2 separate regions of the Homo sapiens genome follow, and region 2 is linked to region 1. The links come from fine-mapping of genetic effects on gene expression. Tissue or cell type: whole blood. Region 1 holds a variant in brackets; the other region holds the start of a gene. All regions are shown on one strand. Distances are from middle to middle.

What was found. PIP is the estimated chance that this variant, and not a neighbour inherited with it, causes the effect.
Region 2: it holds the start of AQP9, and the variant in region 1 is fine-mapped to the expression of AQP9 in whole blood (INTERVAL, PIP 0.95).

The regions. Positions count from the first base shown.
Region 1 is chr15:58,171,675-58,179,857 of GRCh38, forward strand. AQP9 (aquaporin 9) reads left to right here. Exons shown (of 6, transcript NM_020980.5): 3 at 1,394-1,531; 4 at 3,244-3,362; 5 at 7,454-7,671. Among named protein-coding and RNA genes, the nearest start is that of AQP9, 37 kb to the left of the region's middle. The variant G/A (reference allele first, on the strand shown) is at 3,705.
Region 2 is chr15:58,134,787-58,142,969 of GRCh38, forward strand. AQP9 (aquaporin 9) reads left to right here and starts at 3,595. Exons shown (of 6, transcript NM_020980.5): 1 at 3,595-3,890. The coding sequence starts at 3,780.

The DNA.
Region 1 (8,183 bases):
GGGGCAGGTGAAGAAAGGACTCTTGTGGCTTAGCCAGCAGCCAGAATCCCCCACCCACTGCAAGTCCATTTTGCCCTGGAGACTTGGAAAAAGCATAGCTTTCTCCACAGGGAGTGGTAGAGGCTTCTGGAAACAAGTGCACCTATTGGTTCTGTGCAGGATCATCATCATCATCATCATCATCATCATCATCACCACCATCATCCCTCCTTTGTTTACGACCAAGGCCACAGCCTGAAAGTCCACATCTCAATGTGGTGTCTCTGATTCCCCCTCCACAAAAAATGTCATCTGTATTCCTCAAATGAACATCTGTTTTCACTAGGAAGTGAGCCTATATGCTCAGACAATTTTTTTAAATTCTTTATTTATTTTTCTGCCCACAAAAGCAGAGAAGCCTTTATAAACACGGTGAAGATGGGCTGGAAGTGGTATAGCAGAAAACACAGGCTCTAGAATTCAGATAAACCTGAATCTGAATCCTGGTTCTTCCATTTACTGACCATGTAGCCTTAAGAAACTTACTTTCCGTCCATGCCTCAGTTTTCTCATCCGTTAACTGGAGTAGTACTCATCTCATTGGGTTCTTAAGAGGATCAAATCCACCTACTAACCCTACAATGGTGTCTGGTAAGTATTTGATAAATGCTGCTGTTGTTGTTACTAGCAAAGCCAGCTGGGGATGTTAGAGACCAACCACAGAGCAAACTCTCTATTTGATTTTATGGCTGGATGCAAGTCAAGGAAGCCGATTTCTCTAGCTGGAGCTTGGGCTGGGCTCAGGAAAGGGTTGCTACATTTCTGTATAGGAGAGAAATGCATTGTTTATGCAGAGGAACTGAGAACAAGCCACTCACACTGTGACCACCTCAAAATCAACTATGCCCCCACCCTCAGCAACCCACAGTCATTTTCCTTTAAAGATACATCTCTTTTGAGCTTGTTTTTATATCCTCTGGGCATGGCCGGAGGAACTGCTAGATATAGATTTAAATCTTATACATATATTGGATAAGCATATTGACTTTTAAAAGATATCGAAGTTAATAGCTACATCAGTCTGTTTGGGGTGACTGCTTTATAGATAGAGGGATTCAAGCCTATTAAAAAAACAGCCACTTGAGCACATCAAGTTTCTTTTTATACCTGACTCTCTTTTCATCAAGATAAACATTCTAAACTGTTATCCAAGGATGCCATGAAAATGATCATTCCTCCTTCTCTCCCTGCTCAGATACACACTCTCTCTTTCACGTGCATACACACCCCTCTTTCTCCTCATAGGCAGTAGTTCTCTGCCTAGAAGACTGAATTCCACCTGAGGTCTCTAGATGGTTTTCTGTATATTCTTCTTCCTAACCTGCCCTCTCACTTCTCCAATCTTCCCTTGCAGGTGGTCACATCAACCCAGCTGTGTCTTTAGCAATGTGTCTCTTTGGACGGATGAAATGGTTCAAATTGCCATTTTATGTGGGAGCCCAGTTCTTGGGAGCCTTTGTGGGGGCTGCAACCGTCTTTGGCATTTACTATGGTGAGTAAAGTCCCTGAGTCCTAAGGTTAGGAAGAGCTGGGCATAATTTGAAAGTCAGAATTACTTGGTAGGCACAGGCGAGAAAAAGCAAGGACGGGAAGCATTCTACAAGTGACAGCAAGTTCTAAATTTGAGAAAATGAGGCCATATTACCATTCCAGCAAATTCGTGAATCCTGTTAATGAAAATGGTCATATCTTAAATGGGGAGCAGAACTTAAAGGAAGCCTGTCTTTGTGCCAAGCCAGCACTGCAACATACACATCCATACAACAAGCAGTAGGCCAGTGGCTTCCCCACTGCTGTCTCTGATTTGGCTGGGAAAAGAGGTGTTTTCTGGTGACAAAGGTGTGACCAGTAAGTATTGAGAGAAGGACTCTGGGAAGATGTCTTTGAAGGAAGAGACACAGCAGAGATGTGGGCTGGGTGGGAGCCTCATTGCCCTTCTATCAAACAGCCAGGGCTTCCACTCTGCAACAGTCCTTGGGAAAAACACAGTATTGGTCATAGAAGACCAGACTTTAGCTCTAGCTGTTCAGTAAATACCTGTGCAACTTAAATAAGTCATCTGATCTGACTAGCCTCAGTTTCCTCCTCTGGAAAATGAGGGAATTGAATCAGATGACTCTCGAGGCCTTTCAAACTAAAACACCTTGGTGTTCCCATGAAATCAACTGTTAAAGCAGCTCCTTCCTTCTAACCCAAGGTAAGCCTTAATACATTATGACTTACCCAAACTGAAGACCTTAGGAAGTAGAATTTATGAACCAGGCCTTATAGAAATGGGTCATGGAGGGCTGGGTGTGTGGTGGCTCATGCCTGTAATCCCAACACTTTGGGAGGCATAAGTGGGAGGATCGTTTGAGCCCAGTAGTTCAAGACCAGCCTGGGCAACATAGGGATACCTCGTCTCTTCAGAAAAAAAAATTAAAAATAAGCCAGGTGTGGTAACTCACATCTGTAGTCCCAGCTACTCAGGAGGCTGATAAGAGGATTGCTTCAGCCCAGATCAAGGCTGCAGTGAGCCAGGATCATGCCATTGCACTCCAGCCTGGGCAGCAGAGCAAGACCCTGTCTCCAAAGAAGAAAAAAAAGAAAAAAAAAAAGGAAAAGAAATAGGTTATGGAAAGGGACTTTTCCCCATAGAGTGTCTCTCTGAGAATTAGAGTCTAAAAGGGCTAAAATGGAATTCAAGAACACACAGGAAATTCAGAGCCCGCTGCTGTGGCAAGAATGGCCTGGGGTCAGTGCTAGCTGTGGCAGTGGCTGCAATACCCCTGGCTCTAAGGGCATCTTCAGTATACTGCAACACCCTCAAATTCTGGAGTGGTATTAGGGGTTACTGAGAGCCCTCTGGGAATTATAAATTATTCCTAGAGCAAGACCAAGCCCCACTTTGGCTTACAGTTGACCTCGAAAACTCCAAGAATTCCCCCAAAAGAGAACTCATTCCCAGGACCCTATCGAAGAATAATTTGTCCAAGTTTGCAGTGGGCCATTCAGAGAGGCCAAAGGCCTTCTTCCTTTGACCCTCCATCCTGGGATTCACCTGGGCATCTCTAAAACTATCATTCCTCGGAAGTAGAGAGAGACAAATGACATGGCTATGCCAAGCTCAATCTGAGTGACTGGTTGTTTAGCACAAGGCTTGGCACAGGCCTCCTTCAACTCTTCCCAGGGAACACTAATGTGCCAGAGCTTTCTCTTTCATAGATGGACTTATGTCCTTTGCTGGTGGAAAACTGCTGATCGTGGGAGAAAATGCAACAGCACACATTTTTGCAACATACCCAGCTCCGTATCTATCTCTGGCGAACGCATTTGCAGATCAAGTAAGTGTAGATTCAACAAAGACTTAACTTTGGTGAAAAGATATGCTCTCATAAGGGGAATGCATTGGAGAATTAGAGACCAATCAGAAAGGAGAGATTATATTTCCAAAGGCAGAGGTTGCTGGGCATAACCCAAGCTTTCTTGATAATCGTTTTACCTTTACAAGGAGCTGATACCACCAGAAAAGTTTTCTCCTTCCTCTTTAATACGTACACTTGTTTAACATTAGTTGAGATCCAGAAAAGAGTGAATGACTAAACATTTCAATCCCTGTAGACACAAATGGACTTCACTTCACTATTGACTCTTTTGAACAAGTGGTCTAAGTGTGGAGGCCACAA[G/A]AGAAGATATTTCTATTTCAAATCAAAGACTGTGAAGGGTGGTAGTTGAGCCTAGGGGATCATCAATCCTCTCTGTCTCACCATGTGCATAGGTTTATTTATTTAAACTCTCAAGGTGGCTAGAAGTATCTCTGCTTATTGACCTTTAAACAAGCTTCTAGCACCCAAGCATACTGTGGTGTAACCAATAGCACACCTATTTGGTCAGCTTATGGCAGGACTAACATTGTCAACTCAAAAGACTCTTCTTCCCTTACTGTGTCCCAAGAAGGCTGCTGGTTATCTTGGTCAGGGCAGTGGAAGGAAGGCTATATTTTTCAGTATCTCTAAGTTCTTCCTCTATGATCAGGACTTATACAGTGGAGCAGATCAGAATGGGCATGTGTATAAAATGGATCTTCCAGTTCATCAGCTATGCCCACCTCCATTCAATGTATGGATGAAAAACTATGCCCTCATGTCCTCAGCTTTTTTACTTTCCACTTTCATCAATAAATCAAACAGGCAACAAGTGTTCATTAAAAACTCACTATGTGCTTGGCCCTTTGTCTGGAGCTTGAAAGACTGACGAGTAAATGTGAGTTGTAAAGATCCAAGATGCAGAGTCTGAATGCTTGAATTAAAATAGCTGTTCTGCCTCCAACTTCCTGCGTGGCTTCAGCAAAGTACTGAACTTTTTGGGTCGCAAGTTATTCACTTGTAAAATGGGGATAATATGAGCCTTCATGAAGTTACTTATGAGGATAAAAAGAATAATATGAGAAAAACGCATTGTAAGCAGTATCTGCCCAGAAATTTTGAATCTAGTTGAAGAGCATTGAACAAGGAAACAATGCAAAATAAGATATAATTAGACAGAGCTGGGCACGGTGGTTCACATCTTACTCCCTGCATTTTGGGAGGCCAAGGTGGACAGGTCACTTGAGCCCAGGAGTTCACTACCAGCCTGGGCAACATGGCAAAACCCTGCCTCTACCAAAAATACAAAAATTAGCCATGCGTGGTGGTGCTTGCATGTAGTCCCAGCAACTTGGGAGGCTGAGGTGGGAGGATAGCTTGCACCCAGGAGTTGGAGGCTGCAGTGAGCTATGATTACACCACCACACCTCAGCCTGGGCAAAAAAGAAGAAAATTAGATAGGAAACTGGAGTATAGCGACCATATTATAATAGAAATTTGAAGCAGAGAGCATAGAAGAGCGAGGACAATTTTGGTTATTTTGGTGTTTTTCTCTAAGCTTTTTTTTTTTTTTTTTAAGACTGAGCCTGTTGCCCCAGGCTGGAGTGCAGTGGCGTGATCTCAGCTCACTGCAACCTCCACCTCCCAGGTTCAAGCAATTCTCCTGCCTCAGCCTTTGGAGTAGCTAGGATTCCCAGTGTGAGCCACCACTCCTGGCTAATTTTTGTATTTTTAGTAGAGACGGGGTTTCACCATGTTGGCCAGACTGGTCTCGAACTCCTGACCTCATAATCCGCCTGCCTAAGCCTCCCAAAGCTGTATCTTGATCAATGCTGACCTGCATACCATATCCTGAGCTTCCTTCATTGTGTCCTTGTCTCAGAGTGAGTTGGCAATTTCTCTAAGGTCTGTGGTTTCTAAGCCCATTATTGTGTATAAAGTCAAGTAGAAAAAGCGAATATTAGAAAACCCTGAGGCTGTAACCGTCAGCAAACCCTGAATGCTGTCCGTATTCTTAGGCTTTGGAGAGAGTTCCAAAAATTGCCAATTATCAGTCAGTCAACACCCAACAGAGCTCTTGGCCATCATGACCATATTTTGGGGTCACCTTATTTCAAGATTACTAAATTGTTTAGCTGTAAATACTCTTCAAGCATATTCCTTGGTTTAGTTAATAATCAATCATTTATTTACCCAATAACTATTTACTGGGCACCTACTTAGCCAAGTACAGCTCTATACTCTTCCTTCTTCAAGGAGTTCAGAGTCTGAGGCTCAATCTAACAAGTAAGTAGATACTCTTTTGCAGAGTGACAGGGACACTGATACAAGTAAAGTCAGAATGTCATGGAAGCCCAGAGGAGGGAGCTTTTACTCTGCAAGAGAGAGTTGGAGAAGGCATTCCAGAGAAGAGTGCTCTTGGGGGAACATGTGTCTTTTAATATTAATTAAAAATTATTTTAACATTATTATTTTGGAAAGCAGATGAAATGATAATGAACTTAAACTTTAAAATCAGTTGCCTGGTTCCCATCCTGATTCTTCTGCTTACAAGTTTGACATTGGACAAGTGTCTTAACCTTGTTTTACTCGAGTTTTCTTATCTATAAACTGAGAATAATAGCAGGATTTACCTCACAGCATTACTGTGAAGTTTTAATGAGATAAAGCATATGAAGTACCTGGCACATAATAAATGTTCAATAAATAATAGCTATCATTTAACTGTTAAAGTAAAACAGTAGTTTGGAAAACTAATAACATAGAAACCAGCTATAATTGGCCAATTCAAATACCTATTATCATTTTTGTTTATTGTCTTAAAATTTTTCTTTTACGTATGTTTTTAAGTAGAGTCAACCCTACATATCCATGAATTCTGCATCCATGGATTCAACCAACCATGGATCAAAAATATTTTTAAATTGCATTTGTATTGGACATGTACAGACTTTTTTCTTGTCATTATTCCCTAAACAATACCGTATTCACATTATATCAGATATTATAATAATCTAGAGATGATTTAAAGTATACAGGAGGATGTGCATAGGTTATATACAAATAATACACAATTTTATATTGGGGACTTGAACATCCATGGATTTTTGGTACTTGCAGGAAGTCCTGGAACCAATCCCCCACAGACACCAAGGGACAGCTGTATAAAACACAAAACAAAACACAAACACAAACAAAAAAATACAAATTTTTTTCACTTAATGTTATAAGTATTTTTAAATATTACTACATAGCTTTTATGTTTATAGTTTTTAATGGCTATACAGTAGACTAAAAAAAGAGTAAAAGCTTCCAGTTTTTCAGTACTATAAATTTTGCTAAAGTGGACATTTTAAAATGATTTTTCCACGTTTTAGATTATTTCCATTGTGTAATTCTCAAACATCCAGCAGCATCAAATTGTATAAATAAATTTATGTTTTTGAATGCATATTGCTAAATTATTGCTGAATTTCCTTTTAAAAGCATAGTACTTGTTTAGATCTATTAGAAAAGCCTGAAATAACGGGTATCTTTTTCCTAACATTTGATATTGTTTGGATTTATTTTATTACTAATGAGTTTTTACCACTGCTTTCCTAATTCTGTTTTCCTTTTTTGAATTTTCTGTTCACTTCCTTTGCACACTCATCTATTGATATCTCACATTGCTTTTCTCACCAATTTGAACAAGCCTTTCATTCATTTTTCCAGCCTGCAGCTTGCCGTTCTACTTAGCTGAGTAGTAGCTTAGCAGGATAGTGTGGTATTAAGATAACAGTCTCTGGAGCCAAACTCTCTGGATCCAAACCTGACTGCCACCTACTAAGTGGGCAGGGTAACCAATCTGTAAATGAGAATTATATTGGCTTCTCCTCTAGAATTGCTGTAGAAAGAAGAGAGACTGGCACAATTATTCACCCAGTACATGCCAGTTATTACTAGGCATATTGTAATATAAGTAAAATAGTAATATTGTAATATTGTAAAATAGTAAGAAGGGATGATTTTGAGACATGCAGGTGAGCAGAATGCAGGCTAAAGCCCTGGCTCAACTTCTCCCTCTCCAGGTGGTGGCCACCATGATACTCCTCATAATCGTCTTTGCCATCTTTGACTCCAGAAACTTGGGAGCCCCCAGAGGCCTAGAGCCCATTGCCATCGGCCTCCTGATTATTGTCATTGCTTCCTCCCTGGGACTGAACAGTGGCTGTGCCATGAACCCAGCTCGAGACCTGAGTCCCAGACTTTTCACTGCCTTGGCAGGCTGGGGGTTTGAAGTCTTCAGGTAAGTAACAGTGGTGGGGAAGAGAGAGACAGAGTCATGCTGCGCCTCACCAGTGGGGCGGGGCTTTGACATGGAGATCCAGGGAAGTTCAGATGACAGCGCCAACGTTAACTGCACACTCTGGTCATAAGCATGAGACATTTCACTGGTATTTTGTGGTATGATGTGTGTGTGTGTGTGTGTGTGTGTGTGAAAGAGAGAGAGAGACAGAGAAAGAGAGGCGGCTCTAGGTAAATTCAATAGAGATAAAACTGTCCCACATAATAATAATCCCTCAATTGCTATATGATTTTATGTGAACATTTTAGCTGTATAACTTGTCTGCAGATTCATTTTGTGACAAAGTTGGGCTACAATTTGCATCCTATGATGCCACTACAGGGCTCTTCCTCGTGAACCACGCAACCTATGCTGCACTTATTCCACAGATATTTGTTGGGCATTATCTGTGCTTTAGTCACTGTGCTAAGCAAGGAAATTTCAAATCAGCAAAAGCACTCACCTTGAGCGAT
Region 2 (8,183 bases), 37 kb before region 1:
CAATACATTTATGATTTTCTTCAGCAACATTTAGCAGCCAGGGAAGAGAAAGTCTGAGAAAAAAAAAATGGATGGTTAGGCATACCCAGAGTTGGGCTTTGGCAACATGGGTGTAGAAGAAAATCACTGGGTCAATGGAACCTGAGATGCTGGGAAGCGCTTCATTAACGTGGGTAATCATGAGGTAATAATTAGGTGGAAAGGAAGGCTTTGAGGGACTGGAATTTAGAATTAGGAGGTGTAGGGGAAGTGAGGTCAGGGTGTGAGAGGCGGTTATACTTATAAACACCAGGCTTCTATCTTGGGATTGCGTGAGTGTAGGCAAAGATGGTTACCCAAGGCAAAAGTAGATAAACACAGAATAGAATGTTGGGGAGAAGAGAAGATAGGAAGGGGCAGAGCCAAGGGAACTATTAATAAAAGAACAGCATATGCCAGCCCTGGAGAATCAGTATGGCAGTGCATCCAGGAAAGCTCATCAGCTTTAGAACCATTGACAGCAGTCACCATACTCATTCTTTCCTCTGCATGTTGGCAAATGCAGAGTTAGCTCTCAGATGTTCCTATGGTGACAGCAGAAATTTTGGTTCAGTATCTTGCTTACAACTCTATTCTACTCTATGGTGTATTCATTCAGACATCTTAGTCACTTAGACTATTAATTCCTTAATAATAGAGATCTGGTTTTGTTTTTTCATTTTTAAATTCCCACTGCTTAATGCTGTGCCTGACACATGGTACATATTCAATGAAAACTTTTTCTGAGTGAATGAAATTTAAAAGCTTCCTCATGCTTCCAGTTAGAACTTTGGAGTCAGGGTATTTTGACAAAGGCTCCCTCCCAGATGGAATAAAGGAGGAATACTATTCATTGCTTACCTTCTTAAGATGCTTTTGAACATTTTGTTAGGTGGCTGGAACATTTTGTTCAGTGAATATTTTGTATGAGTAAGCTATGTTTGATGATGAGCTGTTCGTGGTGATGGAGGTGAGAAGTGTGACTGTCAATTGAAGGTAGTAAAACAGAAATAATAAAGATTCCATCCTCCTCTACCTAAGCATGAAATGTTCCATATCAAACTCTCAGTTCTCTTCAAACTCTCTCCCTAGGGAGCCTCTTTACTCCAGGCTCCAGTTATCACCACTATGAGCACACAGACATTCCTTCCTCATCTGGACCCATATCACTTCCTAACTTACATCGCTCAGAAGCCTCTGAGGCTCAGTTTTGCACAAGCAGAATTAATGATCTTCCACTGCACTTCTGGTCCTCTTCCAGGATTTCCTCTCCCAGGGCTCAGCAGCACCTTCCCCAGCAAGTTAGGAACTCAGGAACCAACTTTTCTCAGTCTCTTTTCCTCATCTCCCACATCTAATCCATGAAATTCTTCCAATTTTAAGATATAAAGAACTCTTGGATCCCTCCATTTCTCCACTGTCAAACTACCACCCAATTCTGGAATTCTGTAATACCCCCAAATGTATCTGCCTATGACCATTCCAAGCCCCCTCCAATCCCCTCTCCACCTCACAGCTCGGAGGATCTTTTCAAAACTCTAATCTGATCATGTCGTATTTCTGCTTAAACCACCTTAATGACTTACACTTTTAGCCCTAACTACCACTTACAAGGCCTAGTAAGGTCTGACCCTTGCCCACACCTCAGGGCTCATTTTGCATGCTGTACTCCTTCACTCTCTCTGGGGCCAACCACAGTAAATTTCTCTCATTCTTTGAGAGGCATCATGCTGTCCCCTACCCCTTACCCCCAAAGCCACCAAGGACTTTGTACATGCACTTTCTTCCCCACTTCATGTAGTTAATCCCATGCTTCTTTCTGATCTCAGTCCACACATGACTTCCTTGGAGAAGCCATCAGAGATCTCTCCAACAAAGTCAAATCCTTTTGCTATATTTGCTTATGGAAATATGGCCCCCATCTTTGCAGCATACATCTCAGTTGTGATTTTGTATTTATGTGTGTGGGATTATTTCACTTACATCTGTCTGCTTCACTAGACTCTAGGCTCTGTGAAGGACAAGAACCCTATGTGCTCTTGTTAAGTGCAGTGCTTGGCACATAATGAGTGTGCAGTAAATAGTTGTTAGATGAGTGAATGGGAAGACCAGAGAACGCTCTTGCATGTTATTAGCTGTAGTCACAGTAAGAAAGTCCTGTTTCTCTGGTCCATCCACTGGGACTTGGTAATGGTGTGGTCATAGGTAACTCTTCTAGACAATGGTATTTATGATAACTTCATCAGGAATTAAAGCCAAAGTGCTGAGGTTTTGTCCTGGTTCTGCAGTAGTGTGGCCTCAGGCAGGTTATAACTTTTTAAAGTCTAAATTCTAAATGTCACCTACAGATGAGAAGTCTCCTTCTGCCTTTGGCCTCTCACCAGCTGCTTTCTCCATGTCCTCTCCTCCCTCCCTTTTTGCAAAGCTAGGGGAGGGCCTGATGCAGAGCTGGCTTCCCTGTGGGAGGACTGGAAGGAACCACACAGCATGGATACTAATTCCATGAGTCCACATTGGTAATCAGAAACTAGGCCTGCCTTGCTATTTAGAAACTAATGCTATATTCTATTTCTTCAGATAAGCCAGTTTTGAAAAACAAGGCTTGAATATTTGGCAGGACAAGGAGCTACTCCCAAACACAGTTTCTTGCCAGCAAGGATGTCAATTTATCAAATTGAAAGGGTATAACCTAGGAGCCTCGGTTAGGTGTACTGGCTCCCTTTCTCGTTTGATTAGAATGACATACACGCTAATTGATCTCTTTCCGGCTCAGTCATCTCCATGCAGTAAAGAATTTCAAGCTGCTATTGTTTATTTCCTATGTATTATGTCTAAATATTTCATGGTGAATGAAGAAGAGTGACTATTTTCAAACTGGAATGCTTCTTCAGAAGAAACCCAAACTGGAATGTTTCTTCAGAAGAAACTTCAGAAGTCACCAAAAAGGTGACTCCTCCATCTTTCTGATTCTTGGATCCTAAAGTATCTTCAGCAAGTGAAGCCCAGTTTCATAACCGAAGAGGTGACTCCATCTGTCCTACAGACTTGCAGTGTGAAGCTTGCAATGGTTTCTCTGTATGTTAATTTCTCCATCTCTAGGATGGCCTATGTGGTTCTTACTAACCTCAGAGTGGTATCATGAAGCCACTGAAATGATACCAGAAGAAAACAAGAGTGATTAATCTTCTAGGATGATAAATCTATATTTTCTTCAAATTCTTCATTTTGCATAAAAACCTTTTTCAGAAAAGAATGTTAACATTGGATATATCTACACCTGATTTGACAGTTCCAAACTACACCCCAACCACCCACTTCTGAATGAGAAGAAAAAAAAATCAGAAGCCTGCAATTGTGTAACATGAAAATCTTTTCTGGACCAGGGCCCGTCACTGTGATTTGGCAACACAACTGGCACATCTCTTTTCTCATCTCTTGAAAAAAACCAACAGAGAAAAAAGTACCTTGAGAATAAAGGTAATGATTAATCTGTCAGGCACAAAAGGGATTGTTTTGGGGATTTCGGGTTCTAAGTCGCAGATTCAAACAAATAGCAGCGAACAGGGAATGACAGTTCCACCAGAAGACGATTAAGCCACAGCCTCTAATTGGAACGGCATTTGTACAGTCAGAGACTCTTACCAGACATCTCCAGGAATCTGTGAGCCATTGTCAAAACGTCCATTTTCATCTGGCTGTGAAAGTGAGGACCACAACAGGTAGGTATTGGTAGAAACAGGAGTCCTCAGAGAAGCCCCAAGATGCAGCCTGAGGGAGCAGAAAAGGGAAAAAGCTTCAAGCAGAGACTGGTCTTGAAGAGCAGCTTAGCGAAAGAAACCCTCTCTGAGTTCTTGGGCACGTTCATCTTGATTGTAAGTATTTCCTGATTTCCTACATTCAGACCCAATAATGCCTCCCTAGCTGCCAGGCTGGTAGTGGAGAGTTTTGTTTGGTTTGTTTTATTTAAGTTAATTGGGATCAGATTCATCTTTTCCAGGAAGAAACAAGTTACTAGAGGCTGTTTGACTATTTAGGGGTTGTGATATTAAGTTTTCAATTACCTATTGCATTTACCCACAAAAGTTGATGGGAATGGAAGAGAAGGAGTGAGTGAAGTGCCTTCTTTATTTCAGGTATTTACTTATACTCTAAAATGGCTTTGTGATTTAAAAGTCAGTCGTTAGTGTTTTCATTGATCAATTGATTTGTACCCTGCTTGCTTCCTCCAAGCATTGGGGTGACTCAGCCACCTGGAATAAGCATCAATAGTCAATAAATATAGTTGGCAAAAATATACATATGGATGGCAAGAAACATCTCAGTATGACAAGTACTTGACAAGTATTGTGCTGTCAGATCACTTGATTTTTAAGAAATTAAAAATTGCACTAGGTAGAAATAGTGTACCAGGCAATAGTCCAGCTTTAGTTTTGTGTCATTTTTGGTCTCTATTTAAAGCAAAGTAATCTCTAAATATCTTTGGAGATTTACAAGACAATTACAAGAACCTTCTAGATATAAACGAGGGACGACTTCTAAGAACCTCTTGAGGATTGCCCAGAGATTTACTCAGCTATTAACAAGAGACTGGAAAGTTTACTTAAGTGGTCTGGGCTTTCATTTTGCTGCACGTTCTAGCATTCTCTGTATCCTGAAGTTTTACCTGGAACCAGGCCATTTGTGAATAGAAATGTATTATCATGTGGCAACTATTGATTTCAACTGGTTTTTTTTATCCTGCTTAAGGATTTCCTACTCCAGGTATAAATAATTTCATTTTCCTTAAAGTTATAGAGAATAGCCCATAAACTCTGTGCATTAAAAGTTCTTTGCTTGGGGCAAATACATAATAATTTAGAAGAATAAGCTTGGAATGCATCAGCTAAGCCAAGAATGAGAAACAAATGTGAACTCAAAAAATTGAACTAGTGGAATGTGAAGAGAGAGTCATAAGTTTTCTGGTCTCTGAGAAACACATTAGACCAGATTCGTTACAGTATTTTCAGGGAGTTACGGACAATTTCTTGCACTCCTCATCTTCCCTTGGCATTCATTCCTGGCTGCTCTGACCACACTCACTGTCATAATGTAGCAAGACATTATGTAGTAAGACATTATGTAAGTAGTTATTTCTAACTAAAATAAAAGAAATAAAAGAGAGAAGATGAAAGTCAGTGATTCTTATGATTCCCGGTCACTGCTTACTGGAAAATCTTTCTTAGTGAGACTGAGACCCCTCTGTCATGTTACTTGACAATCTGGCCCCAAAGAAGCAGTTGTCAATACAGAGTGATTACAGCCTCACAGTGACGAGTGAGTCAGAAAAGTGAAGCAAATTCAGTTACAATTCTTAGTGCTCTGCAGAAAACAGAGGAGGAAATGAACTACACATCTTTTTTTTTTTTTTTTTGCAACCAAAAAGTTTAAAACCCTCTGTATTTCTTAAGAAGAACCTGTTTCATAATCCCGTGCTTTCTGTGTTGAAAGTGAAATTTGCTTTCAGCAGTTCACTGTTCAACTGGCCTTGTGTCTTCCCCACTATGCAAGGTAGGGGCTAAATAAAGAACATCTTGATATTGTCTGTTGAAAAATTAAAACTTGTATGTTCTGGATAAAGCCAGTCATTTCCTGAAATATTTAATTTCCATTTATACTATACATTTATTTTCTAAAGTGAACCCTAATAAAATCTGCAACCTTGATTATCATCTTCAGTTTTGTTGGAGCTTGTGGGGATGTATAAACAAAAAGTTCCTGCACAAACACAATTTTTTTAAACCAAGAAATCTACATGGTTTTGCTGAAAGTTTATCCAAAGTAATTTTCTGCTTTATTAGAGAATGTGCATTTTGCCTTGTATTTTCTAGTAAAAAGCTTTGTACATTGATAAGGCAAAGGGAAGGGGAACATCGAAAAGATGGCAGAGGATATAAAGGACTCAGTCTTTCAAATATGTGAGATTGTTTTTTTTCCGCCAACCTTGGGAGTCTGGTTCTATTTTTTTTCCCTCCTTTCAAAAACTGCTCTTATGGGGAGCATCTCAAACTAATCTAACACCATGGTATAAATTACGGGTCCCCAACACATGGGCCACGGACTGGTACAGGTGGTCCCTGGTGCTAAAAGGTTGGGAACAGTTGGTATAAAGGACTGATAAGGCCTACTGGTAGCATTAAGAGAAAAGAAGGTCCATGAAAAATTCTTTATAAACTACAACTAAAACCAACAACAATTAAGTCATAAGCCAAAAAGCTAGCTCTAATTTGGCCTTTTAGTCATTGGGATACGTAGGCCTTTCACCTTTACTAGTGTGGGGGGAAAGTTTGCAATGCAAAAGGCTGATCTCTTCCTTGGGCTGAACTTCAGAGAATCTCTAGTCATGTCTAGTCATTTCTCACAGGGACTATGCTCACTCCTACTACTCTATATATTCTCCTCTCTCTTCAAACTTTTCAGGATTCTTTGATACAGAGCTCATCTTATTGAAGATGCTGAAGTGAACAACCCAGCAAGCAGCTGTATTTCCTCCTGAGGTGGAAGGACAGCTTTCCAGGGCTGGACTTTTGAGTAGATAACATACTGTGTAGTCGGACAGATGCTGAATTCTTTTCTCACCCTGTCAAGCTTCCGCATTAGAGGTCTAACTTTTGGCATCTCTTAGAATGGAAAAAAATGCAAGTACTTCTGCTAAAAGTAGTACCCTTGATCTTTACCTTCAGTGCCCTGAAGGAAATAGAAAGAAACTATCCTGGAACACAGACTATGGAGGAAATAGGGGAGTGGGCAGTACAGGAAGGAGGAAGGAAGGACAGGGATGGTTGATTGTATGTGAGAAATTTCAGACACTGCAGTGTTCCCTTCTTCCTGCTCCTACCTTCCACCAGGACTGGGTGAGAAATCATCCCTCCTTGCTGGGGTCACAGAGTTTGTCTCTCCATTTTGAGAGGATTCTCAATCAGACATGCTGGTTATAGACACTCTAGGGCTTTAAAATTATTATTACAAAGTTTGTTCAGATCTTGAAGTAGGTCTATTCTATCTTAGGGAGCTTTTGAGACAAAAGAATCTATGGTCAGGATTTAGAGTGAAATCAGAAAGTTTATAAGCCAAATTAAAGGAAACGTCCACTTTGCAGGGCAGAATCCAGGACAATTTTGGTCTAGTACATTATTTGGAATGCCCAGGTACTGGCAGGAGAGCTCTGAGATAAGGGTGGGCAGATATCACTGGCCCTTTTTATTGGTGGAGAAGCTGAGCTCAGGCTGATGTAATCATGCATCCCGGGAATCAGCCCAGAGCCCAGTTGCCCTGCCCTGGGCACACACTCGCCCTTGGACTTCCACTGTGCTCTTCCCTTGAGCAGCACAGAGTGTTCGCTTGTCCAAATTCTCGTTCCTGTTTGAATGTTTCCTGAAGAGAGAGAAAGGAGAGCGATCAACTGCATTTTGCCAGATGGAGAGACAAGTGTAACACAATTAAGAGACTTATCAGCCCTTGAATGAAAGAGCTGGGCTTGGTATCTTGACTCCAGTCATTCCCTAATACCATCATTTGATGAGAATTAACTCCTTTCATGTGAAAGCCCAAGCGAACTTGACAAAGTTTACAGTTTAAAATACATTAGCAGTGTCAAAAGATGATTTTACAGAACAGACGTGATCGTGGTGGGGATATTTTACAGGAGATCTGCTAGCAGAGTCTTGGGATCTCTTCACCACCTACAAACACATTCAAACCTCAGGTAACACCAGGGTTCTGAGGTGGCTCAGTGATGTCTTCAGCTCTGATAAACACATTGACCAAGCATTGCACTGTGTTTTTCCTCTAGTATTTCTGTTTTCTAGCTTTTCCTCAAGACCACTCTTTTGGTTCAGAGCAAAGGACCTATAGGAAAGTGGGCCTCAAGAGACCCCATAACTTCTCTGTCTTGCTTTCTGGCTCAACAGCCACCTATTCTTTCTCTGTTTCCTCCATGCTTGGTTCTTCTAGCTTGCTATTTTACAAAACCATCCATCTCTCCAAGTCTAGGGTGCCCAGGACTGAGGGTCACATGGAGCTAGAGCTGTCAGTTGGCCAACAGATGCTAGATCAGAAGCCCCTACTGTCAGCAGTGCCCTGGATTCTGCCTGTGGGTGGTTTGTCTGTCCAAGTCGTGCACCATCCTC